4 linked regions of the Homo sapiens genome follow. The protein of the gene in region 1 interacts with the protein of each later gene in a biochemical or structural test. Each region holds a gene or a part of one and is shown in the gene's direction. Other genes may lie near its edges.

What was found.
Region 2: the proteins of RC3H2 (region 1) and UBE2K form a complex in vitro, tested with the Homo sapiens proteins (one study listed by BioGRID).
Region 3: the proteins of RC3H2 (region 1) and UBE2Q2 form a complex in vitro, tested with the Homo sapiens proteins (one study listed by BioGRID).
Region 4: the proteins of RC3H2 (region 1) and KLHL6 form a complex in vitro, tested with the Homo sapiens proteins (2 studies listed by BioGRID, with this or other methods).

What each region holds. Positions count from the first base shown.
Region 1 is NC_000009.12:122,902,153-122,910,195, reverse strand, and holds the start of RC3H2 (roquin-2), read left to right. Parts: upstream 1-4,836; 5' UTR 4,837-5,086; intron 5,087-8,043. UniProt on the Homo sapiens protein: Post-transcriptional repressor of mRNAs containing a conserved stem loop motif, called constitutive decay element (CDE), which is often located in the 3'-UTR, as in HMGXB3, ICOS, IER3, NFKBID, NFKBIZ, PPP1R10, TNF and in many more mRNAs.
Region 2 is NC_000004.12:39,692,559-39,701,135, forward strand, and holds the start of UBE2K (ubiquitin-conjugating enzyme E2 K), read left to right. Parts: upstream 1-5,577; 5' UTR 5,578-5,769; coding exon 5,770-5,832; intron 5,833-8,577. UniProt on the Homo sapiens protein: Accepts ubiquitin from the E1 complex and catalyzes its covalent attachment to other proteins. In vitro, in the presence or in the absence of BRCA1-BARD1 E3 ubiquitin-protein ligase complex, catalyzes the synthesis of 'Lys-48'-linked polyubiquitin chains.
Region 3 is NC_000015.10:75,894,956-75,901,806, forward strand, and holds the end of UBE2Q2 (ubiquitin-conjugating enzyme E2 Q2), read left to right. Parts: intron 1-2,039; coding exon 2,040-2,106; intron 2,107-4,471; coding exon 4,472-4,503; coding exon of another isoform or gene 4,504-4,532; 3' UTR 4,533-6,123; downstream 6,124-6,851.
Region 4 is NC_000003.12:183,503,097-183,510,815, reverse strand, and holds part of KLHL6 (kelch-like protein 6), read left to right. Parts: intron 1-2,307; coding exon 2,308-2,757; intron 2,758-7,719. UniProt on the Homo sapiens protein: Involved in B-lymphocyte antigen receptor signaling and germinal center formation.

The sequences.
Region 1 (8,043 bases):
ATTTCCATGCCTTATTAGTATACATACTTAAGAAATGGTTCATTGGGCCCGAGTTTCTTGATTTTATTTAATACAATCGGATTTAATAATTTTGTGGCCAGTAAAATTATACCATTGGCATGAAGCTGTGAAAAATGAGAAATTCTACCTTTACCAGGGATATCTGTTCTACTGTTTTAAAAGTTCCTCTCTATTTTATTTTTTATTTAACATGAAGTAAAATTGAAATTTCTTCTTGGTGTATAGTTCTGTGAATTTTAACAGAAAGATTTGTGCACCACTACTGCAGTCGGTACAGAACAGTTCCTTCACTCCCAATAGCTCTCTTATGCTGTCCCTTTGTAGTCAGCTCCTTCTAGCTCTAATCCTGGCAACAGTTCTCCGTCACTATTATTTTGCCTTTTCTGGACTGTCATATAAACAGAATCTTATAGTACGTTCCCTCTTGAAATGCTTTTTCACCCAGCATAATGACTTTGAGGTTCATCCATGTCATTTTAAATTTTGAATTGGCAATATATATTCTAGCTGTTACTAGATGAGCAATTTAAAAAGGTGTAGCTATTAGTGTTGTATTTTTTCATTTACATTAATGTAATTTCCATTCACTATGTGTTGATAAAAATCTTAACCATCCCTAGAGTTTTATATTTCCAAAAATATGCCAAAAGGAAAACTATGACTGTATGATTATTTTAGCGAGAGTCATATTTGAGATGGTGTTCTGAGCCATAGTTCTCTAACATCTCCGTCTACATATAACACAAAACTTTTATAAATTATTTTAACAAAGATTAAAATATACTGCAGGGCAAATAATATTCTCTAAAACACAGGAACTGCTTTTCGTAAAGAAGACTGACTAGATGCATCTTTCTTTGAAGCTGTTCTAGTCCTCCTCTAGTTAACTTAGCTTTATGTAGAATTTCTACTGTATTTAATTTCTATTGAAGCCCTTCTGTATTTTAAAATGTAATATACTTTGTACCATTTATAAAAATTGTGTGATGAATGAATCACATGTTCGTTGTTATAAGTGTTAACCTTTTTTTGACAATTTTGTGGGAAAGACATTCTCCACTGAATTTTAACTTTCCTTGAGACTTTCAAGAATGCAGGTCTCGTTTGATGAAAAAACCGACTTCATAACCCAATGTTACTAGTTAGCGACATTGTGCTGAATTTCTCCTTGAACTTTTTAACTTTATATGTAAAATAACTTTGATCTTGGTCATTTGAAAGATCATTTCCAGGTCTAAAATTCCATGATTTTGTATTTAATTCTTCCTGAGAACAGAAGAGGGGAAAGCAAGAGAGGACGGTTTTGTGTCTTTATGAACTTTGTTACTTAAGTACTCCATTGGAGACATAATTTTTCTAATTAGTGGATCTTTTTCCACTGGAAAGTGTGATAGCTCATTGCTAATTTTTCATTCATAGTTCATTGCTTCCATTTGACCTAAGATTGGCCATTTGTTGGTGTGAAAATATTTTCTTTTCAGAAATAGTTTACTAGTGATTGAAGTACTTTTCTTATTTTTGCTTCCTATTATAAAATGGCGTGGGGGGAAGGGGGAAGGATGGAGATGGGAGGAGAGGGTAAAAGAATAGTACTCTGATTTTTTAAGAATTAGTATCTACTATCTTGGATATTTGAAAAAAAATTGGTTGAAACTATGTTTAAGTTTTATGTGTGCCTTGTAAGATTGTTGTAAAATTTTTTGTGAGCACTTTGAGATTTTTGCTGGGGGAGGGGTGTTTTGTGAAAGTGATGGTTATTATTTATATTATTTATTCCTGTTCAGTAGCACGGAATGATCTCCAAACATTCCTAGGAGAGTGTCTGTTTGCATGATATGTCTAAAAATTTTCAGGAAAATGGAATCTTTTTTTAAAGTTCAGGTATGACAAAGTATAGAATTTATTCATTTAACATATTCACATTTAGTTTATGTTTCTGATATGACAGAAAAATGAAAAGTGTTTGAGTTCAGCCTCTTCATTTACTCCATTTACATATAAAAGATCTTGAAAAGGTAGTTGTTACTTCGTTGTCAGAGAAAAACACTTGCCCTTTTTCCTGGGATGTAACTATCTTACATGTTTACATAAGAAATAATAAACTGGAGGTGGGAATGGAGAACAATGTGTTTTGTCTTCATCTTTGAATTTTAAAGGATACAATTTAAAGGATACAATTTCTCCTGACTATACATTAATCATTCATCTAGCAAATACTTCCTGAGTCCTTACAATGAAATATAAGTTAGGTATACAGACAAAAATTCCTGCTCTTGTGAAACATCTTAGTGAAGGGAGACAAACAGTAAACAAGTAAGTAAAATCCATGTATGTCAAATTTTGAGAAGGAATTTGGAGAAAAATCAGGAATAGGGAGTACCAGAGAAGGGGGATGGAATTGCAATTTTAAATATGGTGGTCAGCGCCGGGCGCCGAGGCTCAGGCCTGTAATCCTAACACTTAGGGAGGCCGAGGCTGGCAGATCACTTGAGGTCAGGAGTTTGAGACAAGCCTGGCCAACCTGATGAAAACCCTTCACTAAAAATACAAAAATTAGCCGGGCATGGTAGCGCTTGCCTGTAATCCCAGCTACTCGGGAGTCTGAGACAGGAGAATCCGTTGAACCTGGGAGGCAGAGGTTGCAGTAAGCCAATATCGCACCGCTGCAGTCAGCCTAACTGAGGGAGCAAGACCCCATCTCAAAAATAAATATGGTGACCAGGACACCTTTGAAAAATCTCGGATTATCAGAAATATATATTCTTCTGTCTAGTGAAATGTAAATATATCCAGTAGAATAGAAAAATTTGGCCTGGACTGGTGGCTCACGCCTGCAATCCCAGCACTTTTGGAGGCCGAGGCAGGCGGGTCTTCTGAGGTCAGGAGTTCAAGACCAGCCTGGCCAACATGGTGAAAACCCGTCTCTACAAAAATACAAAAAAGAAATTTAGCCGGGCATGATGACGGGTGCCTGTAATTCCAGCTACTGGGGAGGCTAAGGCAGGAGAATTCCTTGAACCCAGGAGGTGGAGGTTGCAGTGAGCTGAGATCACACCATTGCACTCCAGCCTGTGTGACAGAGTGAGACTCCGTCTCAAAAAAAAAAATATGTACATATATGTATATATAATGTGTATGTTTATATGTGTATATATACTTATATGTATCTATATATGTGTATATATATTTATATGTATGTATATATGTATATATGTGCATATATGTATATATGTGTGTATATATATATATACACAGTAGGGTGGAAAACAAATATGTACATGTAAATTACCTATCACTGTCCAGTTGAAATTACTGAAACAATTATTGGTTGTTAACAGTTCTCTAGGCCTGGCATATGTTTCATAAAGAGAAGAGAACGAAAAAGATAATGTGTGGAAGAAACGTCTTCGATGTGGCCAATGAATCTTTTTTCAAAAACACTGATTTTTGCCTGTCATTCAGACAAATATAATAGGTAATAACTATATATTTTGTTAAAACTGTAGAAGCAACCTTTCCATATTCTAATTTATCGTAGGTTTACTTCGATATTTTTGTTGTTGGGCATCTGATTTCACATTGGAAAGTGCCTTGAGTTTAATTACAAGTCATGGTCATTTTTTTTCTTCTTTTTTTTGTTGAGACGGAGTCTGGCACTGCCCCCCCGCCTGGCTGTAGTGCAATGGCGCGGTCTCGGCTCACTGCAACCTCCGTCTCCCGGGTTCAAGTGATTCTCCTGCCTCAGCCCCCCGAGTAGCTGGGATTACAGGTGCCCGCCACCACACCCGGCTAATTTTTGTATTTTTAGTAGAGCCAGGGTTTCACTATGTTGGCCAGACTGGTCTCTAACTTCTGACCTGGCGGTCCACCCGCTTCGGCCTCCCAAAGTGCTGGTATTACAGGCATCAGCCACCGCGCCCGGCGTCATGGTCATTTTCTAGCCTACATTCTTTAGTTTCTCATCAGTAACAAGGGGTACATTGTATCTGTCTTCTAGGATCACTTTGCTAATTAAATGAAATGTAAATAAAACTAAAATATTTAAAATTAAATATCACCTAACACAGGACCTGCCTGACACATACTAAGTAGTTTATAAATGTTAATTCTGATATCCCTATTCCAAGTCTGTTTCATCTATAAATTATAAACTGTAAGAATAATTCTTACCTTAGTTCGCTGTGTAAAAAGCTTCAACAAATATTTGAGATATGATGCCAGAATTTGTGCTTAAATTTTTTATTTTTGCCAGCTTTTGAGGAGCTCAGAGCTTTCTTCCCCCCCTCCCCCCCCCACTTTGGACTCTTTGTCTAGAAACAGAGTTTTCTCTTTAATAAAGAAGTGAGATGTGGAAGTGCCTGCCAAATACATGTTTTCTTCTTGTTTTTGTAATGGGGAGATTACTTGACATCTTTGTAAAGGGATTGAGGGATCCTGTCGGCATGTCATCACAGGAGTGTGAAGAAGAATGTGACACAGATGTATCAGATTCTGCTCAATGGATTCCACGCTTTTCACGAAGGGAGTTAAGACACTCGCTCAAACCAGCGTCTAGGAAGCCGGCTCAAGGCGCAGATGAATGTGCAGGGAATTTCCCATCAATCCCTTCGGCTTGCCTAGTCCTTCTCACAGTACCTCCCACAGTGCTCCGGGGCTCCCTTGTCACGTGATCGGGGTGGATCCGCTGAGGCAGAGGGAAGTTGATTCGCAGTTTGGGTGGCTGGGGCTACTACGCTTTCCTTCCAACTCCCGACTCCCGGGCTTGCGTAATCTCGCGTTAAGTGGGGAGTAACTTCTCGCGAGAGCTAGATCGGGATCCCTCCAGGTCCGCCTCCGTGGTGAGGAGGAGGAGGAGGAGGAGGCGGAGGTGGAGGGAGGAGGAGGAGGCCCCGTCGCGGCCTTCGCCGCCGCCAACGGGGCTGTCCCTGTAGCTCCCGATGGAGTTTGAGGTCGTGAAACCTCCGCCGAGCTCTGCCCCGGCGAGACGAGGCGCCTCCGTCGCCAAGCCGCGCCGTCGCGGGGCTCCCGGGAGCGGCCCTTAGCGACCCCGCCCGGGCCCCCTCAGGTAGGGCGGGGGCGGGCACGATGCGGCTCGGGCCCCAGCCCGGGTGCCTGGTCCCCGGCGGTCGGGCGGGAGACCAGTCTCAGCCCTGGGGCCTGTGCGCTGTCGCCCCTGGTGCCTCGAGGGTTGGGAACTGAGGGCCGCACCTGACACTCGGATGGAACCCGGGCCCTGCGGAGGCCCCTCTCTCTGGTAGGGCTTTTTCGATGCGGAGCGACCGGCTCAAATGGCCACCTTCCTTCGACACTGGCCGAGCGGACGCCTCTGACCCCTAACGAACCCACCCAAGCAAAGGCCCGGCTTCACTCTCCCTTTTCTACACCAGTTAGTAAGGGGGTTTGGAAGAGGTCCTCGAAACCAAGTCTTCTCCTAGCTTTTCAGCTTTCTGCCCTGGGGCTTCCCGAGACCCTAGCGTAGAGGGTGGTGGAGGCGATCTGAGTGGTAAATAGGAACCCCGGCCAAACAATGCCCTGGGAGGGCTTAACCTCCCAGGATGGGGACGGCCGGACCTGAGTGGTTGCACAGGGGTTGTGGCTAGGAGCAATGGCATGAAACACAGCCAGGAAATTCTGCTATGGCTTTCTTCTTTCCCTCTCTCATTTTTCCTTTTTGGTGTAGCCTCTTGAGGAGACTCTTCCACCATCTTAGAAGAATGGTAGAAAGCATCTTTGTTTCCCAGAGAAGCAGCTGTACTTTTTTCTATCCTTAGCTTTCAGGATGGGAGAAGATGAGGGTAGCTGTCATTTCCATCCTTCAAATCCCAAGGCAGCCGTTTAAGATACCGGCAGATAAATCCTTCACACCAAAATTGACTCAAGTAATCACTGGCATAAAGTAAATCTAATCCAGTGATTTATTTATATTTTCATAACCCTTGGGTTCCCTTTTTAATTCCTCCTCTCCCCTTACCCACGGCCTTCCTTTTTTTCATTTCTACTCTCCCCCTACCCATTGTGGGTGGGTGAGTTTGTATCCCAAATAAAGTGCTTTAAGTAATCTTTTTTCCAATTTTGTATTGGCCAAACTTTTAAGTTCCAGTAGGAACTTTTGGTTAACCTGAGAAAGCTAACGTTGCTATACCACAGTGGTATAAAGTCACTCAAAAGCAAAGAAACAAATGTTAGCCAGTGCAGCCTTTTAATGGTTAAACATACAAACTTAGTTAAAAGCTTTTTACGATATTAAGAATATTAATAGATTCTCCTTTTTAAAAAACCTTTTAGCTGTCTAAAAAGCTATACCACTGTTGTAGCTTCACATGCCTTTCTTACGTTGTTTACTTCCACGTTCAATTTTTGAAGAAATAGAGGTCGTTACATCCTGTTAAAGACTGCTTTTCAATATTGACATTTTCGTTGATTTGGAGATTAATGTTTTCAAAATTTTAGAGTTTGGAAAATTGCTAGGAGGACAGAATGTGAAACATATTCTAGTTACGTTTAGAAAAAGCAGATGTTATAATTCAAACAGGCACTTGTTCTATGAGGATTTAATTACACTCGTGTTCATTAGTGGATCCTTTGAGTTACCCCTGATCTGTTATTTCTGTTGTGGTAACCTGACATGTAAGAAGACTTACGTCCTTTGTTCATATATTTTTGTTAAATCATACTCTGCTTTTGTAATTTGCTGTCTTCCACTTTGAAAAAACCAAAAATTTGCATTTTGGCAAAGCATTCTTCTTTACACTCAGGATTTTATATTCAAAAGTTGAACTTCTACATTGTTTGCAATAGCTAAGAACGCTAAAAAAAACTTCATAACAAGGTTTTAGTAACTACTTACTGTTTAGTTTGTACCGTGTTGAAGTTTCACTTTTTAGTGATGGAAAAAGGAAGCATGGGTAAAATAAAGCTAGCTGAAAATTAAAAATAAGTTCATGTTTTGCATCCAGTCTCATGAATGTTATGATCAGCGTCTCTAATTTTACTAAAGCTTTAAGTGTAAGTGTGAGTTTTACCTCAATTTCCTGATAAAAGTTCTAAGTATTACTTTATAATTTAAATATTCTAGAGTTGCACTGTCCAGTACTAGCCAGTGGCCACATGTGACAGTTGAAGATTTGAAATGTGGCTTCTGTGAATTGAGATGTGCTTTAGGTGTAAAATACCAGATTTCAAAGACTTAGTACCAAGATTTTTTTTAATATCTCAGTAATTTTAATATTGACAACATGTTGAAATGATATTTTGTATAAACTGGGATAAATAAAATATATTACTAAAAATAATTTTAGCTATTTTAACTTTTTTTTTTTTTTTTTTGAGACAGTCTCTCTCTATCACCCATGCTGGAGTGCAGTGGCACCATTCGGGTTCACTGCAACCTCTGCTTCCAGGTTCAAGCAATTCTCATGCCTCAGACTCCTGAGTAGTTGGGATTACAGGAAGGCACCACTACACCAGGCTAATTTTTGTATTTTTAGTAGAGATGGGGTTTTGCCATGTTGACCAGGCTGGTCTGGAACTCATGACCTCAAGTGATCCACCCACCTCCCGCCTCCGCCTCCCAAAGTGCTGGGATTACAGGCGTGAGCCACCACGCCTAGCCTCTTTTAACCTTTTTTAATGTGACTACCAGAAAATTAAAAATTACTCGGATTATAATGGCTCACATATTTCTATCGGATATTACTGTTGTAGATCAGCATTACTCTTCCAAGAAATATGTTAGTGGAATAAAAGTAGATGTATAAAAACCCAAAACTTCCAGATAGATTATCCTGTTACAATCAGAATAATTAAAGAGCTAAGGACTTTGGTAATATGAAGGATGAAGTTATCCATTGGCTATGATTTGATAGGCAGAAGTAAGTTCTATCTCAAAGAAAGTATTTTTCTCGTCATCACTAATATTAGTTATACTTGTTAAAATAGAAAGTTGGCTGGGCGCGGTGGCTCACGCCTGTAATCCCAGCACTTTGGAAGGCTGAGGCGGGTGGATCACCTGAGGTCAGGAGT
Region 2 (8,577 bases), on another chromosome or scaffold:
GCCTGGGCGATACAGCAAGGCTCCATCTCAAAAAAAAAAAAAAAAAAAAGCCATACTTTAAGGATGGTAGATTGACTGCCTGAAAACATCTCAGGGATTGCCCAGGTGTCTGTAGACTATAGTTTGAGGTTAATTTTCTTCATCCCTGCTAAAATGTAAATTTCACGATTGCAGGGATTTTAATCTCTTGTTCACTGATATGCCTCCAGGGCCTAGCCCATAGTAGGCATTCAATAAATACTTATTTAATTATTTAGTTAACGAAGTTAATCAGAATTAGATCATATTACGGAAGAGCTATGTTCTCCATTATTGGAAACACATTTTTAAAAATTTGTTTTTGGATGGATAAAAAATACAACAGGAGACATGGTGAAAATTCTCCCACTTTGCTTCCCCCAAAGTACTTAAGTTCCTTCCTGAGAGGTAACCACTGTTATCAGTTTCTTCCACATTTTTCCAGTGATATTTTATGGTTCACAAACATTACATATACAGGCATATTCCTTTCTCTCCTTACAAATATGGTGGCATACTATATACATATGGGCTGTGACATACCCTTTAATAAGTAAACTTTTTCTTTTGGAATAATTTTATTTTATAATTTTATTTTATTTATCTTTTTTAGAGGCAGGATCTCACTTTGACACCAGGTTAGAATGCAGTGGTGCAACTATAGCTCACTGCAGCCTGAAACTCCTGGGCTCAAACCTGCCTCCCACTTCAGCCTCCCAAGCAGCTAAGACTACAGGCACATGCCACCACCCCTGGCTAGTTTTTTACTTTTTTTGTAGAGATGGGGGTCTTTTTGGCTGGGTGTGGTGGCTCACGCCTGTAATCCTAGCACTTTGGGAGGCCAAGGCATGCGGATCACAAGGTCAAGAGACCAAGACCATCCTGGCCAACATGGTGAAACCTCGTCTCTATTAAAAATATATTTTAAAAAATTAGCTGGGCGTGGTGGCGGGCACCTGTAGTCCCAGCTACTCGGGAGGCTGAGGTGGGAGAATCTCCTGAACCCGGGAGGCAGAGGTTGCAGTGAGCCGTGATCACGCCATTGCACTCCAGCCTGGGCGACAGAGCGAGATGCCGTCTCAAAAAAAAAAAAAAAAAAGAGAGAGATGGGGGTCTTTTTTTTTTTTTGAGACTGAGTCTCTATTGCCCAGGCTGGAGTGCAGTGGCACGATCTCGGCTCACTGCAGACTCTGCCTCCTGAGTTCAAGTGATTCTCCTGCCTCAGCCTCCCGAGTAGCTGGGATTACAGGCGTGCACCACCACACCTGGCTAATTTTTTGTATTTTTAGTGGAGACGTGGTTTCACCATGCTGGCCAGGCTGGTCTCAAACTCCTGACCCCGTAATCTGCCCACCTTGGCGTCCCAAAGTGCTGGGATTACAGGCATGAGCCACCGCACTTGGCTAGAGATGGGGTCTTTCTGTGATGCCAAGGCTGGTCTAGAATTCCTGGCCTCAGGTGATCCTCCCACCTCCACCACCCAAGTTGCTGAGATCACAAGCATGAGCCATCACAATTGGCCTTGGAATAATTTTAGATTACAAGAAAGTTGAAAAGATAGTACAGAGATTCTTTTTTTTTTTTTTTTTTTTGAGACGGAGTTTCGCTCTTGTTGCCCAGGCTGGAGTGCAATGGTGTGATCTTGGCTCACTGCAACCTTCGCCTCCTGGGTTCAAGCTATTCTTCTGCCTCAGCCTCCTGAGTAGGCGGGATTACAGGCATGCACCACCATGCCTGGCTAATTTTGTATTTTTGGTAGAGACGGGGTTCTCCATGTTGGTCAGGCTGGTCTCGAACTCCTGACCTCAGGTGAGCTGCCTGCCTTGGCCTCCCAAAGTGCTGGGATTACAGGTTTGAGCAATCGCACCCGGCCCTGTACAGAGATTCTTGTATACTCTTTACTCAACTTCCACTAATGTTAACATCATACATTACCATATGGCTATGTCAAAACTGAGAAATTAGCATTGTTATAATACCATTAACTAAATTACAGAATTTATTTATATTTCACTAGGTATGCCCTTTTGGTTCTAGGATCCAATTCAGGATACCACATTGCATTTAGCGTGGTGCTTCTTTTTTTTTTTTTTTTTTTTTTTGAGACAGAGTCTGGCTCTGTTGCCCAGGCTGGAGTGCAGTGGTGCAATCTTGGGTCACTGCAAACTTCGCCTCCTGGGTTTGAGCAATTCTCCTGCCTCAGTCTCCCGAGTAGCTGAGATTACAGGTGCCCGCCACTATGCCCAGTTAATGTTTTGTATTTTTAATAGAGACAGGGTTTCACCATGTTGGCCAGGCTGGTCTCCAACTCCTGACCTCAAGTGATCGGCCCACCTCAGCTTCCCAAAGTGCTGGGATTACAGGTGTGAGCCACCGTGACTGGCCTCGCATGGCGCTTCTTATTCACTTAAAATATATCCTGGAGATTGTTTCATATCAGTTAATATGCAGTTGTCTCATTAGAAGGACTACAGAATGAATTCCTAGAAGTGAAATTGCAGGAGCAGTGATTATGTGCATTTAAAGATTACCAAACCCTCTCCCTTGAAGAAATTACCAGACCCTTGTCCGGTGCAGTGGCTCACACCTTTAATCCCAGCTCTCAGGGAGGCAGAGGCGCGAGGATACCTTGAGCCCAGGAGTTTGAGACCTGCCTGGGCAGTATAGCGAGACCCCGTTCTCCACAGAAAGGGGGGAAAAAAGACAAAAAAAAAAAAAAAAAAAAAAAAGAAAGAAATTACCAGACCTTTTTTTGGAGAGGGGGAATTGTCTTTTTGTGGTTTTTCTCTTGAGACAGAGTCACCCTCTGTCACCCAGGCTGGAGTGCAGTGGTGTGATCTCCGCTCACTGCAACCTCCGCCTCCTGGGTTCAAGCGATTCTCCTGCCTCAACCTCCCAAGTAGTTGGGACTACAGCGCACGCCACCACACCCAGCTAAGTTTTTGTATTTTAGTAGAGTCGGGGGTCTCACCATGTTGCCCAGGCTGGTCTCGAATTCCTGAGCTCAAGCGATCCGCCCGCCTCGGCCTCCCAAAGTGCTGGGATTACAGACATAAATCAGGGCGCCCGGCCTGGACCCTTCTAACTGGTCCCCCTTTGAGTATTCCAAGTTTCTTCACATTCCAAGATTAGGATTGGACAGTGATAATGTAAAGTGCTCAAAAAGTTTTTGCACTCTTCAAAATAATTTTTTTAAGTCTACTGGCACAAATACATATAGCATTGCGTGATTTACATTACACCAATAATTCCTTGTACCATGACCTACGTATATGGTTGAGTCCTCTTAGGACCACTAGGGGGCTCTGCTAGAAGGGTTTATATAATTTATGTCAGCCCACTTAGGGGAAATGTTTTGAGATGATATTTTCGAATTCTGAACTCTTAAAACTTGAGAGAGATAATCTAATCCAGTTTTCTCGTTTCGTAGATGAGGAAATAAAAGCTGGCAAGAGAACTGCCATGGGAGAGAACTGGAATTTTAAAATCTCCTCTTGGTTCCTGGGGCGGGAGTTTAAGAAATTCTCTTTTGCCTTGTGCCCCCACTGATTCGCCTCCATTGGCTATTTCCATGTTTGCCACCACAATTTTAATTACTTTTGGTAAAACCATGTATTTGTGATATTTTTATAATAGATATTTTACTGATTGGCTAGGTGAAGAAAGTGCATGAAGTATAAACTTCTGAAATGACACCCTTATTACTTATTCCAAAATGTTCTATTCAAAATGCTTCTCAGTACCAAACCATTATTACTATGCACCTTAGAAACCACTTTCTTTTTTAAAAATTATTATCTTTAGAGACAGGATTTCACCATAGGGCCCAGGTTGGTCTCAAACTCCTGGGCTCAAGTGATCTGCTCCCCCTCGGCCTTCCAAAGTGCTGGGATTACAGGCGTGAGCCACCGCGCCCGACCAGAAACCACTTTCTTTTGTTTGTTTGTTTTTTGTTTTTTTTTGAGACGGAGTCTCGCTCCGTTGCCCAGACTGGAGTGCAGTGGCGCAATCTCGCTCGCTGCAAGCTCCGCCTCCCGGGTTCACGCCATTCTCCTGCCTCAGCCTCCCGAGTAGCTGGGACTACAGGCGCCCGCCACCACGCCCAGCTATTTTTTTTATATTTTTTTAGTAGAGACGGGGTTTCACCGTGTTAGCCAGGATGGTCTTGATCTCCTGACCTCGTGATCCGCCCGCCTCCGCCTCCCAAAGTGCTGGGATTACAGGCGTGAGCCACCGCACCTGGCCCAGAAACCACTTTCAAACTTACTTTCCACTTAAAATATTTTATACTTTTTGTTTTGTTTTGTTTTGTTTGAGACAGAATCTTGCACTGTGGCCCAGGCTGGAGTGCAGTGGCGCGATCTCGCTCACTGCAACCTCCGACCCCCAGGTTCAAGCGATGTTCCTGCCTCAGCCTCCAGAATAGCTGGGATTACAGGTGCCTGCCACCACACCTGGCTGATTTTTGTATTTTTAGTAGAGATGGGGTTTCACCATGTTGGCCAGACTGGTCTCGGACTCCTGACCTCAAGCGATCCGCCGCGCCAGCAAAAACGTTTTAGTCTTATCTGTACTCATTTACTCATTCAATATTTATTGAGTGCCTACTATCACCAGGCACCTTTGAGGCCTAGGTTTACAGAAATAAGGCTCCCCCTCCCCCACCCCGAGTCCCCTGAAGGGTACTGTAATTGTTTCCATTTCTCCAATTTTCACTTTAATATATGTGAATTTTCACATGCTTCATTCAGTTCAGTGGTTCTCATAATGTGGTCCCGGAACCAGCACCAACAGCAGCAGCAACTGGGAGACTTGTTAGAAGCGCAGTCTTAGGCCCACCCTACACTCTAGGGATGGGCATAGGAGTGTGTGTGTGTGTGTGTGTGTGTGTGTGTGAGAGAGAGAGAGAGAGAGAGAGAGAGATTGTGTGTGTGTGTCAAGCTCGGTATTAAATAGGTCAAAGAGCAACATCTGGCTTCTAAACCCACCCTCAGGCCTCTCCACCGAGTACCTGTCTCAAACCCAATCTGATCCAACAATAACCAGCCTTAATTCAATAATCTGTGCTACCTGAGATGATGGGAATAATCGTGGTACTATAAATGTTGCAGAACAAAAACGACTGCAGTAGATTTTCTGGGGCTACACCAACTGAAAATGGGCCGGACCGAGATCCGGGAGAGCGTTTTCCTGCGCTAGACACGGCGTTCAGCCTCCGGGTTCCGGGTCTAGCTGAGTCAGGGCGGCGTTCCAGCCGAGTGCGGCGTCGGAAACCCGTTCGGTTGCGCCCGAACCTTCGGTCAGAGGCCAGCGCTGGAAGCCCAGACCACAGCACCCGGGTTTAAACAGGAGCGGAGGCGCCGGGAAGGGCCGGGGGGGCCGGCTAGGGCCGGCCAGCTTGGAAGCCGCACCCTCGCGGCCCCAGACGCCGGCAGGGCGGAGCCACGCGGCCGCAGCCCCAGCCGAGACGCGAGCTCGTGGCTCGGGCGTATGGGGGCTCCAACGGGAGCGGCTGCGCCGCCCGGCCGGGTCAACGTCGTGCGCATGCGCCGACCCGGCGCCATTTTGGTGGCCGGGCGCGGAGGTGATTCCACACTGAGGCGAGCGCGGCGGCCGGGGTGGTAGTGGCAGTGTTCGTGTGCTCAGGTCTGAATCGCCGAGGGAGGAGGCGGTGGAGGAAGAGGTGGCGGCGGTGGCGGTGGTCGTAGCGGTGGCGGAGGAGGCGGGTACGAATCAGCTGCGGGCGGAGACATGGCCAACATCGCGGTGCAGCGAATCAAGCGGGAGTTCAAGGAGGTGCTGAAGAGCGAGGAGGTCAGAAATGAACTCCCGGATATCCCCCACCTCTGCCTGGGGCGGGAGGGTCCTCCCAGCTGCGACCCCGATATCCCCGGTAGTCCCTGGGTGGTCCTCCTTGCGGCCGCCCTTCTGCCTGTGAGGAAGCAGCAGTGTTCCCCTCCTCCTTCCGCCGCCTTCCCCTCCCCTCCCAGAGCGCTAGGATGGACGGTCTCGCGGGCGGGTGGTCTGGGGTGGAACATGGTTTGGGGAGGTGATGGACAGGGGGCAACTCCTCGGAGGGATGGAAGCTCACAAGAGAACCCGAGGCGGTGGCCGCAGCTGGAAATGTGGCTGTGGGGTGGGGAGGGAGCAGGCCGAGCCTGAGAAAACCCGGGAAGTGGGTTGGGGGAAGGGGAAAGGTGGTAACTGGATCCCAAGAGCAGTGCTGCTCGAAGGCCCACACTTTTGAGGGTATTCGGGGTTATTGCCTGTCAGGCCTTCACTGTTCTTTTCTTGGGGAAGGAGCAGTGAGTCCTTAGGTATTGATTAAAAAGGAAGGACATTCAGAGTTAGTCCTTCTTAGTTGGGTGTTAGGAGTCAAAGGGAGACATAATAGAATACTGTCTTATTTGGTGGCAGGGGTAAGGGAATTTTCACCTGAGTTAGCAAGTTAATTCCAAATAAGATAATTATCTCTTTTCCACTTAACCCCCAAATTCCTAGGCCTCATCTTTATTGACATCTCAATCTTTTGAGTGGGCAAAGGCAAGGTGTTTGGTGTATTAAAGACATGTAAATATTTTTAGTTAGGAAACAAATAATGGAATGTATGAGTAGCTTATTTCAAAATATTGTTTACAAGTTACAGATCAGAGAGACTGTCTTAAGACAGTGCCTCTGTGACTCGTGTTGTGCCACGAAACTTCATTATGATGTCCCTCATAGTTAACTTGATTCTTACTTTTGAAAAGCAGACCTATTAAAAATGTGAAATTTCACCAGATTAATACATTGTTTCATCTCCTTATTGAGATTTATCACGACTTAACAGATTTTCAAAAAAGTTGCCTCCCGTTGCTCTTAAGTCCTGCAGAATTTAGATACATTTGTACTACGTTTATTTATGTAAGATATTCACAGTGCTCTAGTAATTTGACTCAAAATTATGCAAGTATTAGTACAGTTTCTCATACCAAGATCAACAAGAATGCCAGATTGTCTTCCCCACATGAATTAAACAAAAAGTAATACAGAAAATGATTATTTTCAAGATTCACATACCATTATTGAATATATCATTGCTATTTGTGTTTTTCTTTTACAGTTAGTACTTTAATAGTGTCAATAATAATTTGTGAAATTCAGCATTCTAAGTATGTGATGAGTATACATGGAGAAAAAATTATTTAAAATTCAAAAATGACAACAGACTTATTGAAAGTAGTATATAAGTCATGGTCGGTTTTACAGAGCATGTGTATGAACTCTGACCTCTATGTTTGTTCATATGCCAAAACTCTGAATGGAAGGATGACTTTGTATTTTGTGGTACAATGCAGAAATAGAGTCATAAGTGTCTGTACTGATACAATGAAACAGCAATTTTAACTTATTTAATATGAAAATGTATTCCAGGTTAGTTGACATATATACTCCTAATGAAAGCAGTTGTTGTTGCCAACAACTGAAAACATTTCTTGTTTAATAAGGTTGTACAAGCCTGAAACTTAATAGACTTTTAATGCTTTATTTTCTGTTACTTACGGTAACAGAAACAGTAAGTTACTGCTCTGGTAATTAATGTGGTCTCTTTGCTTTTTATGAGCTGACTTTTCACCGTGGTATTCTTAGTACTAAGTTGAAGATTACCAGAAATACTTGTATTGCTCTCTAGTAATGCATATTAAAAAAACACTGCTCTTTATACGTAAGGGATGTTGAAGCCTTACTTCAGATAAGCATCAAAAGTGTTTCAGAAGAAGAAAACAGGAAATGCAAACAGACAGGTTTTTTGTTGTTTTTGTTGTTTGTTTGTTTTGTTTTGTTTTGTTTAGAACAGTACCTGTATAAATATGGAAGGAAACTTCTGGGAAAATAAGTTGGAAAGAACATTTAGGAAAGGGTCACATCATTTAATCTTGGAATAAATATAACCAATAAATAGCTTATTTTCACCAGTATTTTTTGATATTTTAGTAGCCCCAGTTCTATAAGTGTATTGTTATTTTCAACTCATTGAAGACTTGTAGTATAGTCCATGTGTTTCCTTTTTAAGGGTGTAAATACAGTCTTTTGAATGGCTGATCAAATAAATGTTTCATCATGTCACTTTTTTGGTAAATCAGCACTTTACCGAAGTTTATTTCATGTGTTTGTATGCTTGTGTTTACTAAGAACACTGGTTGATTTAAGGACTTTTTGGGGTGGCCTTATAAGAGCCTTTGTAAAGATAGCTGACGCTTACTGGATTCTGGTTATGAGAGATTATAAGTGGCCGTTCTTAGAGTGTGTTAAAATACAGCCAACAAGATAAATGTGAAAAAGCAAGGTGCAGAATAGTGTGGAAGAGGCCATTTGTGTCAAAAAGAAGGGCATGTGTGTATTTGCCTGTATGGGTAAAAGGTTTCATGAGAAATTGGTAAAATTGATTGCTTTCTGTGTAGAGAGTTGGGTGTCTGGGGTATAGATATTTTTTGAATTTTGTGTCATACAAATGTGATTTACTTAAAGGCATCATTTGGCCTCTTTCCCTTAAGACAGTGTTTGGAAATTTGTCAGATG
Region 3 (6,851 bases), on another chromosome or scaffold:
GTGGGCGGATCACAAGGTCAGGAGATCGAGACCATCCTGGCTAACACGGTGAAACCCTGTCTCTACTAAAAATACAAAAAATTAGCTGGGCGTGGTGGCGGGCGCCTGTAGTCCCAGCTACTGGGGTGGCTGAAGCAGGAGAATGGCGTGAACCCGGGAGGCGGAGCTTGCAGTGAGCCGAGATTGTGCCACTGCACTCCAGCCTGGGTGACAGAGCGAGACTCCGTCTCAAAAAAAAAAATTTTGAGATGGAGTTTTGTTCTTGTTGCCCAGGCTGGAGTGCAATGGTACGATCTCGGGCTCACTGCAAACTCTGCCTCCTGGGTTCAAGCGATTCTCCTGCCTCAGCCTCCCAAGTAGCTGAGATTACAGGTGTGCTCCACCACGCCTGGCTAATTTGGTATTTTTGTAGAGACGGGGTTTCTCCGTGTTGGTCAGGCTGGTCTTGAACTCCCAGCCTCAGGTGATCTACCTGCCTCAGCCTCTAAAAGTACTGGGATTACAGGTGTGAGCCACCGTGCCTGGCCGGCTTTACTATTTTAAAGAGCTCTTAGATGTTGAAAAAGACTACCCTGTAGAAAAATAGGAAAAGTCCTTACATAAATTTAACATGTTAAAAAAAAATAGGAAAAGGGGGTATAAAAAGTCTGTTTACAGAAATAGAAATAAATGGCTCATGAACATAATGGAGACATGCTCAGTCTCACTCAATAGAAATACAAATCAAAACTATACTGGGAGTCCATCTAGTATATTGTCAGAAATCTACAAATGTTTGAAGTACTGCATTGGTGAGGCTGCATCGAGGCACTCTTACAGATGGCTGGTGGGCAGACACATTTGTGCAGTTATGTAGAGGGCAATTTAGCAATATCTCAGAATTACACATATATATCTTTTGACACAGCAGCTCTACTCTAGGACATTTTTACCAGTACTCAGCAGATATACGTACAAGGTTGCTCTTGGCAACATTATAACAGCAAAATATTGAGAAACCCTGATGTCCACCAATAGGGGACTGATTAAATATTTGAATATCCATATAATAGAAATATTTCAGTGTTTAAAACAGGTATGTTCTATACTGATAAGGAACATTCTCCAAGATATGCTAGACAAGAAAAGGGGCAGACCAGTGTCTGTAGCATGCAACTGTTAGTGAAGGAAAGCCAGGGACAGTGGCTAATAACAGTGGGCTGTACATGAATAATCTTAAAGAGGGACATACAAGAAATTAGTAATAGTGGTTAACTTGTGTGGAGGAAGGGGGATGAACGGGAGGAAACTGGGTGTTCAGGGCACCAAGTAGGAGGGAGAGTTTTCACTTAGGATGTAGACATTTTTGAGTCTTGTGCTGTGTGAATTTATTATGCAAAAATTTCTGCCACATAATATAGTGGATAGATGGGTACCACTATGGAGAGTGCTCCTGGTATATTAATTCGAAGCGAAGATATAGGTTGGTTGTACTTATGGTGACAAAATTAATCCTAGATTTGGCTCCTTAAAAAGATTGTATATTTTTATCAAAAGAGGGCTCCTTTAGTAAGCATGGTGACAATTATGGGCATTCTTTAGATTTCTAACTTAAAATGTCATTCATATGTATAGTTGTGGAAGCTTAATATTTTCTTATCTGAAAGTAATATTTTGTAGTTTTTTTAAAAATAGAAATTGTGTGAAGACAGTTTGAGTTTTATTAACATCCAGATATAATCCTTTAACTTGATTCAGCAATATGGAGACGGACTCTAGAACCAGAAAGCTTTGTACTTGTCCAATGGTAGGAAGACTTATAAAAATGAACTGTGAGGCTTGTTGAGTTTTATTGGGGTACAATTTTGGTTTTGTTATTTTTATAAAATTGTAGAGAATAATGAAACTGAGAAATGAGGCTATTAAGTTAAAATTGTTTTTGAAATGGAGATAGTCAGTTTCCCATGTTCTTTTAAGCACAGTGTGATGCATTCATAAATTTATTGTAATAATTTTCACCTAATTACACTTTTGATTTAAAATGTGTAATTCTCTTTCAGAATCAATATAATCTAGCAAGAGCCCAACAATCCTATAATTCCATTGTACAGATACATGAGAAAAATGGTATGTTTAATTCAATAAGTGTTTATTGCCATTTAAGAAGTTTTAGATAATGTATTAATACTTACCATTTTATTTTTCTGTTTTTGCTTTAGTTTCTTAAAATGCTGTTACCATGGTGAAAGAAACTTGTGCTGCATACAAAATCTTTATTTATTTATTTATTTATTTTATTTTATTTTATTTTATTTGTTTTTTGAGACGGAGTCTCGCTCTGTCACCCCAGCTGGAGTGCAGTGGCACTATCTCAGCTCACTGCCAGCTCCGCCTCCCAGGTTCATGCCATTCTCCTGCCTCAGCCTCCCGAGTAGCTGGGACTACAGGTGCCTTTTTTGTATTTTTAGTAGAGACCGGGTTTCCCTGTGTTAGCCAGGATGGTCTCGATCTCCTGACTTTGTGATCCGCCCGCCTCGGCCTCCCAAAGTACTGGGATTACAGGTGTAAGCCACTGCACCACAAAACCTTAACATTGTACTTCAGTCAAAATTTTTGTATCCTATACACTTGGCCTAGGTATCTCAGAGTCAGAATCAAGATTTCTTTTTTTTTTTTTTTAGTAGATTAATGAATGACTCACTTTACTTACTTGAAATATTAGGAACTGAGTTAAAGGCAACTCCTTACAGATGGAGTTCTTGTTGTTATAACTGGAGTGCAGTGGTTGTTTACAGGCGTGATCATAGTGGACTGCAGCCTCAAGTTCCTGGGCTGATGTGATCCTCCTGCCTCAGTCTCCTCAGTAGCTTGGACTGTAGGCACAAGCCACCATGCCTGTAAAGTATTCTTTACTTTGCTAGAAATGTGTCAGTTTGTGACTTAAGATTTGTGTTTTGTGCTCATTTATTTTAATGACAAAGCAAACTTGTCACTCTTTCAGTGATTGCTTACTTATGGAAATAGTATTCAAAACAAAATTTTCAAGCAGAAGAGAGAAACGATAAAATTTGAGGACAAGGCCAGGTTTTCATAATAATAATTTCTAGCACACAAAATTAGATCCAAAGAAACCTGTGTACTACTTTGATACTTTATAGATCTTGGCATATTCATACTATTCTAAAGTTTCATACTAAACAGTACTTAGTCTAATTTGCCTTTTTATAGAGAGCTTAGGTTTTTGCGGAACCTGGGACACAGATTTCTTCTTATCTTTGTTTTTATTTCTTAACCATTACAACTGGCATTCAAAAAATATTTATAGAAAATGCTGTATTTGAGAGTGTGTGGGTATGTGTAAGCTTAGCTGTGATGAAAGAGTAATAGAGTCAGAAGCAGGGGAGATGACTTCTAGGGTTTTGTTTTTTTTTAAATCTTAAAATTTTTTTGTTATTTTAAAAAAATAGATATTATACTTACTGTGTACAAAGTTTTGAAGTATACATAACTGTGGAATGACTAAATCTAGCTAATTAACCTAGGCATCACCTTACATAGTTATCATTTTTATGGTGAGACACTTTACATCCACTCTTAACATTTTTCAAGAATATAGTATATTGTTAACTATAGTCACCATGTTGTACAATAGCTCAAGATGGATTCTAGTTTGGCCTGCTACTAACTCTGATTTTAGGCATAGTCATTTAGTCATTGCACCTGCTGCGATGGCTTCCTTGTCATTGTGAAATGACGTTATGGCTCCGATAACAGTCCAAGTTCCTTGTATTCTAAATCGCCAGGATTTTGTTTGGGGAAATAAGTACTTTCCATGAGGCTTACTTTCAAGTATAGAACTGAAGTGGAATAAAACTTATTCTTTTAGTCTAATATTCCACAGTCATCTTTAGCTAGAGATGCCATTAATACAGAGCTCTTGTGTTGAAAACTCAGGTACAATTTATTCATAGAAAATAACTTTCTGTTGTGAAATAGCAAAATGCAGTGTTCCCAATCCAAGTGTAAGTTTAATTTTTAGAGTAGACTGGGTGCAGTGGCTCACACCTGTAATCCCAGCACTTTGGGGAGGTGGAGGTGGGTGGATCACCTGAGGTCATTAGTTGGAGACCAGCCTGACCAACATGGTGAAACCCTGTCTCTACTAAATACCAAAAAAAAAAAAAAAAAAAAATTAGTGGGGCATAGTGGCGCATGCCTATAATCCCAGCTACTTGGGAGGCTGAGGCAGGAGAATTGCTTGATCTGGGAGGTGGAGGTTGCAGTGAGCTGAGTTTGCGCCATTGCACTCCAGCCTAGGTAACAGAGTGAAACTCTGTCTCAAAAAATATATATATAATATATATATATATTTTTTACGGTAGATTTTAAACACCAAAATTATGAAAAGAGACTGTAGCTAACCTTATTACATGCCAGTTCTTCTAATTTATTTAAGAATTATTTTAACTTTTTTTTTTTCATTCTATTTCAGGCTGGTACACCCCTCCAAAGGAAGATGGCTAAATGTGTTGACTGTTGTATGTTTGGACTAATGTTGCTTTAAAGAAAATCTTTCTAACATGCAGACAAAAGCTTTGAGTGCCCCTATTACAGCAGTACCGAAGATGTTAGTTAATAGATATTTTAGTGGATAATCTGTCATCTGACATCCAGTATAAGTTACAGCCTTTGCATTTTGCTCATTTTAGATATCTTGGACTGAGCAGTGGGGCCTTTACTGTATTTTTCCTGATAAATACACATACTGGCCACTCCTTATCTCTTTTTCTTGAAAAGTGAACTTTTTAAAGCAGCCAAGTCAACATCAGGCTACTGAAGTTGAGGCTTTAGGGTAACTTTCCTATATTGAGCCCATGGGTTACAAGGATTTGCAATATATTGTTCCATTTACAGCCAATACAGGTTTAATCGATGTTCAATATTGGTTTAGGAAATTTAAGGCCTTCTAAATCATAATAGCTCTTTCATGTCTAAAACCATTTTATGATATTGCCAAAATGTGATAGGAAACCTACTCATTAAATTGTTAAACTTTTTAATGACTATGTGAAGATATGAATTGTTTCCTGAAGATAATACTCTTAATTGAGTTGTATTGTACTTCTTAGGCAAAGCAGTGTAAAACTGTATCAATTAAGGCTTGTGAGTAGTGATTTCCACTGGGGCATCAGAGTCTTGGCTGGGCTGAATCTGCTGCTTGTTGGTTCAGTGTTTCTTATGAACAAGAGCCACAGTACAGAGCTTCAAGTTATTTAAAATACTAAGTCATCTTACGTTTCCATTTTATTAACGGGATGTTGCAATCGTTTGTAAACTAATAAACTTATAAAGTGATTGGCACAAAGACTCCTTGAGCAAAAGCTGTGCAGTTAAGTACAAAAAGATACTTAATTTGGAGACTCTTACAGTAATTTTTGCCATGTCAAAACAATGGCTTTTACATTGAAAGATTAATAGAAACTCTACATATGTTAATTTTTTTATAGAACCTGACTCAAATCAAGGTACTCTCCATTTTATTGCCTTACCTGAATCAGTCCTTTTTGGTTGGTAATAGATTTTTTTATACACCCACGTTTGATTTAAAAGTAAATTCTAGTTCTTAAGCACTTTTAACAAATCCAGAAGCACATTTTTCTGCACAAACAAGTTACAAAGTTCAAAAGTGTTTCTTGTGCATTAGCTTTGAGATTCAGTTTTTAACTTTGTAAACCACATCTGAGAGACTTGTCATTTCTACATTGTGTGTGTTTAATTTCTTTTGATTCCATTTTGGTTAAGAGAGCAGTAAATAGATTTTCTGGTATTCTTGTTCACTTGATTACATTTGTATAAAGTTCTGATTGCCAGTTGCTCAGATAACAAGTGACAAGGCAGAATTCTTTAAATCAGTAAAGTTCCTTAAGCCTAAGGCTAAATCTTGAATACATTGTTGAATTCTTTAATATCCTGATGGCAAGCAGACTGATAGCTGCACATTTGGCATGCTTTGTTTAATGGATTTTATTTTTAATTGCAGATTTATTTGGCAATGTACAGTAAATTTTGTAAACTTGCATCAAGTTTATGAATAAAGAACCATTTAAAAATTTTGTTTGTGCTGATCATGGCAAGCAAAAAAAAGATTACTTTCTCATTTTTCCCTCATAAGAAAACTCTGCTTGATGTGTTTGTAGGCTTTATTGAGTTTCTGGAATAAGATATTTAAGGAGGGAAGTGGTGAGGGGAGGCTTGGAAGACAGGCAGATTTAACAAGAGAAAGTGAAAGTGTGAAAGAACCTGGAAATAGTCTGTACAATAGTCACCTTTTCCTCCGCCTTTTTCCTCTTCCATTCTCATTATAAATTCAAGTGCTACTTTTTCCTTATGGCTATCCTTAGTTCCCCCAGTGAAAATAATCTGCTCCTTCCTTAGCATACCCATGGCCTCCTTGCACACAATTGACAGATTATTTCACATACAAGAAGTCCAGAGGTAGGACAACTCCAGGTACTGTACATCTGGGCTTTGCTCTGCTTCCTTGAGATTTTTCTATGTTGGTTTCATCTTTTGGTTGCATGTTATGTGCAGCCCCCTTACTTGATCCAGAGGTAGATAAATGGCCCTGTCTTCTAGTGTCTCCTTAGGAGGTGAGGAAATCTCTAAAAGCACCATCCCATCAAGCACACTGCCTCTTGCCTTTCCTTGGCTACATCAGGGACCTGTGCCCACCCCTAAACCAATGGTGGTGAAAAGAATGAAACCATCGTGATTAGTTTGCACAAATGGTTCTCAAAGCCTTATTTGGGGAACACTGGAGACCCCTGAGACCATTTCAAGAGGTTTTAAAAGACTATTTTCATAATATTAAA
Region 4 (7,719 bases), on another chromosome or scaffold:
CCGCAACCTCCGCCTCCCAGGTTCAAGCATTCTCCTGCTGCAGCCTCCTGAGTAGCTGGGATTACAGGCATGTGCCACCACGCCTGACTAATTTTGTATTTTTAGTAGAGACGGGGTATCTCCATGTTGGTCAGGCTGGTCTCCAACTCCTGATCTCAGGTGATCTGCATGCCTCGGCCTCCCAAAGTGCTGGGATTACAGGCGTGAGCCACCGCGCCCGGCCTAAAAAATGCTTTTTAAACTGACAATCCTATGTGATCTGACACAGAAAGATAATATTTTGCAATAGAGGTTGATCCAAAAAGTCAGGGATGTGTTCCCTGGAATGCTCTGGAGTAAAGTCCAGAGCCTAGGTCACCTTGGTCCACTCTTAGAACCAGTCCTGCCCCACTATCAACCTTCAGGCTCGATAGCCCCACTCCCCACAGCTCCTGCCAACCCTCCCCAGTCAGGTCTGTCCTGTCCCTACTCTCACCAGGACCTGCCTTCAGAAGGCCTCCCCCACCCCCACCAGGTCTTGCCCCCTCAGCCTCCCCTTTCCTCTCCCCCCATTAATCGATCAACCCATGGGCACCAAGAACTTGACCCTATAAGGAGTCCAGTAGACGGGGAAGGGAGCTAGGAGGTTGAAATTGTTCAAAGCTAAGCTCCAGAGAACAACAAATAAGAATGAACCAATGCATTTGAGACATGTCATCTGTAAAATGGATATTACAAAATATAATGGATATAACAGTGCTTTGTCATCTGTAAAGTGCCCTACAAGCACAAGGGACTTGAATTTTTATGAGGATGGTGATAACTTAAAAGTGGGACCTGAGAGCCAATCAATAATTTTACAAATTGATTTTTTAATGACAAAAGCGGTACGTATTCATTTTAAAGGATATATAAATAAATAAAACATATAAATAAACAAAAACAGAAAAATTCTCATAGTCTTCTTAGAGTGTCATACCTTCTATTATTTATATAGTATATTCCCTGTCCATCCCATGAGACCTGTTTCTGTGGGAGAACTATGGTTCCCTTGATGACAAATTTTGCCATGTGACTTACTCTGGACGGTTTTGTGTAAATGGATATAGCATGCGCCCCCTCTGAGCAGAAGCTTTAAAAGCCTCTGTGTGGTTCTGCCATCTTTTTCCCCTTCTGTCATGGGACCAGCATGTCTCAGGTAAGGGCTTTCCATCTTCCTGGCCCCTGGAATGAAGAGCCCCGTGAAGAACACATAGTGGGTAAGAGGAACATTTATTGTAAGCCCCTGAGACGTGAGGGTTGTTTGCTGCTGCAGCAGAATTTGCCTTAAGATACCTGATAACCCAAAGAGATAACAACCATTAATATTTTGACCTACATCCTTTCATCTTCTTTCTATGACTTTATTCTGTGTATGTTTTCTTTATAAAAATAAGGTCACAATGTACATATGATTTGTGACGTGCTTTTCTCATTTTATCTGCAAATATTTCACTTATAGCTCTAAAAAATAAGGATTCTTCTTCAACATAAACATGAAACCATTATGGCACCTAAAATGAATCATAATTGTTTCATTAGCACCAAATATTAGTCATTGTAAACATTTCTCCAACTTTAAAAAATATATATTGTTTAAATCAGGAATCCAAATAAGATCCATACTTTGCAATTGGTCAATGTGTCTTAAATCTCTGTTTATCTTTAGGTTCTCCCTCTCCTTCTCTCTCTCTTTTATCCCCTTGTAATGTATTTGTTGAAGAAACTGAACAAGTTGTTCAGTAGAGTTTTCCACAATCTGGATTTTGCTGATCATGTTCCCATGACGTCTTTAGCAGGTTCCTCTTTCCCTGTATTTCCTGTAAATTGCTGAGTAAATGTAGAGGCTTAATCAGATCCAATGAACAGATTTTAAAACTCAATACATTATGAACATTTTCTATTTCATTTAATATTTTCTACAACATGTGTTTTAAGTATCTACAGAGCTATCGACTGTATGAATGAATTATATGTATTTAGCTAGTCCCGTAAGTGTCTCATTGTTTTAAGTCGACTGTATGAATGAATTATATGTATTTAGCTCCTCCCGTAAGTATCTCATTGTTTTGTCGACTGTATGAATGAATTATATGTATTTAGCTCGTCCAGTAAGTATCTCATTGTTTTAAGTCTACTGTATGAATGAATTATATGTATTTAGCTCATCCTGTACTGTTGGACATTTAGGTTGTTTCCAATTTTTGGCTAATACACATAACTCACTGATAAACCTCCTTGTGGACTCACCATTTTCTGGCCTCCTTTCCACCCTTTCTATTTCATCAGTTCCTGCGGATGGTGGATGCCTGTGCCAGCTTCCTCACTGAAGCCTTGAACCCAGAAAACTGCGTTGGAATACTGAGGCTGGCTGACACACACTCGCTGGACAGTCTAAAGAAGCAGGTTCAGAGTTACATCATTCAAAACTTTGTGCAGATTCTGAACTCTGAGGAGTTTCTTGACCTGCCCGTGGACACTCTGCACCACATCTTGAAGAGTGATGACCTTTACGTGACCGAGGAGGCTCAGGTGTTTGAGACCGTGATGAGCTGGGTCCGGCACAAGCCATCAGAACGACTCTGCTTACTCCCCTATGTCCTCGAGAACGTGCGCTTACCGCTTCTGGACCCGTGGTACTTTGTGGAGACGGTGGAAGCAGATCCTCTCATCAGGCAGTGCCCAGAGGTCTTCCCGCTGCTCCAGGAAGCCAGGATGTACCACCTTTCTGGCAATGAGGTGAGTAGAAGATAAGAGGTGCTATATTTAACCAGCGAAGTAAGGAGTTAGCTAGGGGCTCACAGAGATGCAAGCAAAGCGGATTCAAAAATCCTTAGGGCATTAAGGAGAAAACACTGCCCTGTTCATTGCTGAGTCGGTCAGTTCCAGAAGCCCTGATTCCTGATCTATGAGGCCGATCCCACGTGTTCAGACAGTTACTGAGCGCGTTAGGTGAGATGTAGAAATCACCCAGCACCATGCCTGGCCCGTGCTTCCTCTTCCCAGTTGTGGAAGGGTGGGAGGTTGGGGGTCACACTGCACGCACAAACAAGAATGTGCCCTGGGCCGGGCCTGGTGGCTCACACCTGTAATCCCAGCAGTTTGGGAGGCCCAGGGCGGGTGGATCACGAGGTCAAGAGATCCAGACCATCCTGGCCAACATGGTGAAACCCTGTCTCTACTTAAAAATACAAAAAAATTAGGTGGGCATGGTGGCATGCACCTGTAGTCTCAGCTACTCGGGAGGCTGAGGCAGGAAGATCACTTGAACCCGGGAGGCAGAGGTTGTAGTGAGCCGAGATCACGCCACTGCACTCCAGCCTGGGCAACAGAGGGAGACTCTGTCTCAAAAAGCAAAGCAAAACAAAACAAACAAAAAACAAAAAAAACAAGAACGTGCCCTGTCTAGTCACTATTCCATGGGGGTGCTGCTCTTCCTTGCCCACTCTGGTGAAATCTTGTGTCTCTTGTATATACTCTGACATCACTTTGATTTAGACTCTCACCATCTGAATTTCTGGAAATTTCTCAAAACTCATCTTCCTCCCCCAAGTCTGGCCTCCCTCCAATTTATTCACCAGCTGAAAGATCTGAAACTCAAGTCTGATCATCTTGCTCCTGGGCTTGCCTTCTTCATTGGCTCCCCATCACTTTCAGAATAAAGCCCATACTTCCTGCCTACGTTCCCAGAGCCTGGTCTTGCATCATTAATCTCCTGCCTGCTTCTCTAGTGTCCTCTCCAACCTCCCACTTCTGCTCTAGTCCTAATGCACAGCTTGTGGTTCCCCAAAGTGGATGTGCTTTTTCTGCCTCCAGGTCAATCTGAATGTTGTTCAAATGCTTTTCTCTTCTTCATCTAGCTGACTTCTACTCCTACTTCAAAACTCAGTCCAAGCATCACTTTCTCCAGAGACTTCTCCTTTTATTTATTTATTTATTTATTTATTTATTTATTTATTTATTTATTTTTGAGAGGAGGTCTTGCTCTGTTGCCCAGGCTGGAGTACAGTGGTGCAATCATAGCTCACTGCAGCCTCGACCTCCCAGGCTTAAGTGATCCTCCCACCTCAGCCATCCAAGTAGCTGGGAGTACAGGCATGTGCTACCACACCCGGCTAATTTTTAAATATTTTGTAGAGACAAGGTCTCACTATGTTGCCCAGGCTGGTCTTGAACTCCTGAGCTTAAGTGATCTTCTCATCTCAGCCTCCCAAAGTGCTAGGGTTACAGGTGTGAGCCACCACACCCAGCCACTCTCCGTGTTCTCATAGCACTTGGTGCATTGCTCCATCACAGCACCAACTGCTGCATGGCAATGATTTGAATTTATTATATGTAAATATCTCTAGACTGGGAGCTTGTTATAGTAGGAAATATGTCTTATTGCACTTTACATCTCTAGATCTTAGAAGAGAGTCCTGAGACTGCTATATAGTGAATGAGTAATTAGTAAATGCTTGTTGAATGATTAAATGGGTACTACGAACGGTGAATAAACATGTCATTTGGATCTACCTGGTTCTCCTTAACAATTCCTGAAGAAGATTTTTCTTCAGAACTTTATAAAGACAAGAACAAATTTAGTGGAGAGGAAGTAATGATATAGGGACAGTTTGTTAACAGTTTGTACACATGAACACCCATACATATATCTCACTATGCAGTGGTTCTGGGATTAGCTACCAGGCTTTCTTCATTAGGCCATTGGTAGAAGCCTTAGCCAAACGTGGCCCAGGAATTGTCTGTCTGAGGTTCTTTTAGAGTTTCTCCCTTTTTCTGTGTGTTCTTTTCTAGTTTTTTTGTTGTCCTTAGATCCACTGTTCATTCATTCACTCTGCAAACATACCCTTAAATGTTTAGTAGAATTTACCAGAGCCTGGTGTTTTCTTTGTGGAAAGTTTTTAAACTATAATGTATATCTCTTTAATAGATATAGGACTATTTAGGATCTCTGTTTCTTCTAGAATGAATTTTGATAGTTTGTGTCTCAAAGAATTTTTTCATTTAATATAAGTTGCTGAATTTATTGGCATAAAGTTGTTCACAGCATTCCTTTATTATCTTGTTAATACCTGCAGAATCTATAGTGTTGTCACATCTCTCATTCCAGATATTGGTAATTTGTGTCTGCCCTTTTTTTTTTTCCTGATCAATCTGGTTAGAGGCTTATCAATTTTATTGATTTTTCTCAAATAACTAATGTCTAGTTTCATTTGATTTTCTCTATTGTTTTTCTGTTTTCTATTTCACCTATTTCCACTCTGATCATTATTTTCTTTCTTTCTGCTTAGTTTGGGTTTAATTTGCACTTATTTCTGTAGTTTCTTAAGGTGGAAGTGGAGGCCACTGATTTGAGACTTTCTTTCTAATATTGGCTTTCATGCTATAAATTTCCCCCTAAAAACTACTTAAACAGCATCCCATGTATTTAAGCACGCTATGCCTTCATTTTTTGCAAATAAATCCTGAACACCAATTCCTTGCCAGATATGGCACCAGGTACTGCAAAAACAGTCTGTGTCTTACCCAGGTACTGCTAAACAGTCTGTGTGTCAGAGAAGATGGGACATTTAACAAATGAAGGGTGATGAGTGGATTGATGGGGGGAGCCTAGGAAACCACATAGGTCCTATTCTATGCTGGATGTCTAGCAGACAGCCTGCATATAATTGCAGACAGGTTTCAGTCTCCGTAACTGCCCTCAGTTCAGCATTTATTCAGTGTCTCCCATGGAATACTACACAGCCATAGAAAAGAATGCAATCATGTTTTTTGCAGCAACATGGATGGAGCTGGAGGCCATTATCCTAAGTGAACTGACACAGGAACAGAAAACCAAATAATGCATGTTTTCACTTATAAGTGAGAGCTAAACATTGAGTACACATGAACACAAAGAAGGGAACAAAAGATACCAGGGCCTACTTGAGGGTAGAGGATGAGAAGAAGGTGAGGACTGAAAAACTACCTATCAGGTACTATGCTTATGTATGATTTCATCATACGGATGATGAAATAATCTGTACACCAAACCCCCACAACACACAATTTACCTATATAACAAATCTGCACATGCTGAACCTAAAAGTTAAAATAAATAGCACTTTAAAACAATTTAAACATATACTGTGCCTTGATCAACTATACTTCCAATATTTTTGCTATTTTTGTTTCTGCTTCCTATTTTCTAAGTCCTTGAAATGCAGATGATAAAGATTTTCTCTGATATAAAAGGTCCCTACCCTGTCTTCTGCAAAATTGCTGCAATGAAATATTTTTATTGCCTTTTGTATTTCCGAGGTGCTGGGGGCAGAGTCAGACATTATAAGCTTTAGATTTAGGAGGAGAGAGAATTCTGACATCTGGAAAATTCTTCAGTGGTGAGAACCTGGGCTTGGAGTCAGGCAGAGATCTGGGTGTTAATCTTGACTCCACAATTTATTTACAGTGTAATCTCAGGCAGTTACTTAGCTATGCTAAGGCTCAGTTCTGATCTGTAACATGGGGGTAATAATACCTACCAACTGATAGAACTGTCTTGAGAGTTAAGTAATGAATGGAACGCTTAGCACAGTGTCTGGTACAAGCTAAGTGCCCCACAAATGGAAGCTGTTGCCATTGCCACTTGGTTCGTTTATTGTTGCTCCATCTCTCACAATCAATCATTTTCCTTCTCTGGGGTTAAAACCAGTCTTTTCACTGTGTCTCAGGTTTTTGTGGCCTTATTTTCCCAAATCCTTCTCAAGGCACTTTCTCATCTTCATTTTATAGTTTGGACAACTGAACCAACCAACCAGCCACCATGACCTCCTAATTGGGGTCTCATTGCCAGTTGATTCCCTGAGTCAGTCTGCTCCCTGCTGGAATGGTCTTGGGTTGACTCCTGATGACAGTAGTGTGAGCCTGGAGGCTACTCTGTGAACACATTTCTCCCCGTACCCTTCATTTACCAAACTTTAACCCTCTTGTCCTATCATCATCTTTCCCATTTTTGTTTTATTTTGTTTTGTTTTTTCTTCAGACAGACTTTTGTTCTTGTTGCCCAGGCTGGAGTGCAATGGTGCGATCTCGGCTCACTGCAACCTCTGCCTCCCAGGTTCAAGAGATTCTCCTGCCTCAGCCTCCTGAGTAGATGGGATTACAGGCATGTGCCACCACCCCTGGCTAAGTTTGTATTTTTAATAGAGACGGGGTTCCTCCATGTTGGTCAGGCTGGTCTCAAACTCCCAACCTCAGGTGATCTGCCTGCCTCGACCTCCCAAAGTGCTGGGATTACAGGTGTGAGCCACCGTGCCCAGCCCATCTTTCTCTTCTAACCTTGCCCATCCTCTAAACTGGTGTTAACAACAGGAAATTTTAGAACACACCAAAAGCAAATGTCAGTCTCCATTTGATTTGGGAATGGTAGCTGGAACCTTCATTGAAAGAGAACTTTGGGGACAGAGGAAATTTGCCTCTTCATTTAACTGCCTCTTAAGTTTTCAGACATGAACCTGATCTATACCAAACATTACTCTGACATGTGTGATGTGGGGAAAGGGGAGCAGAGGCTCCAGCCCAAGGACAGCTTTGCTGAAACAATATGCTCACTCTGTCCCCTAGTATAAGATCTGTGGACAGTGAGCAGTCATTAAGGTGCAATTATCTGCTCTGTTTTTAACAATCTGAAAATAAACTGGTTATGCCTGATTGTTGCATGCA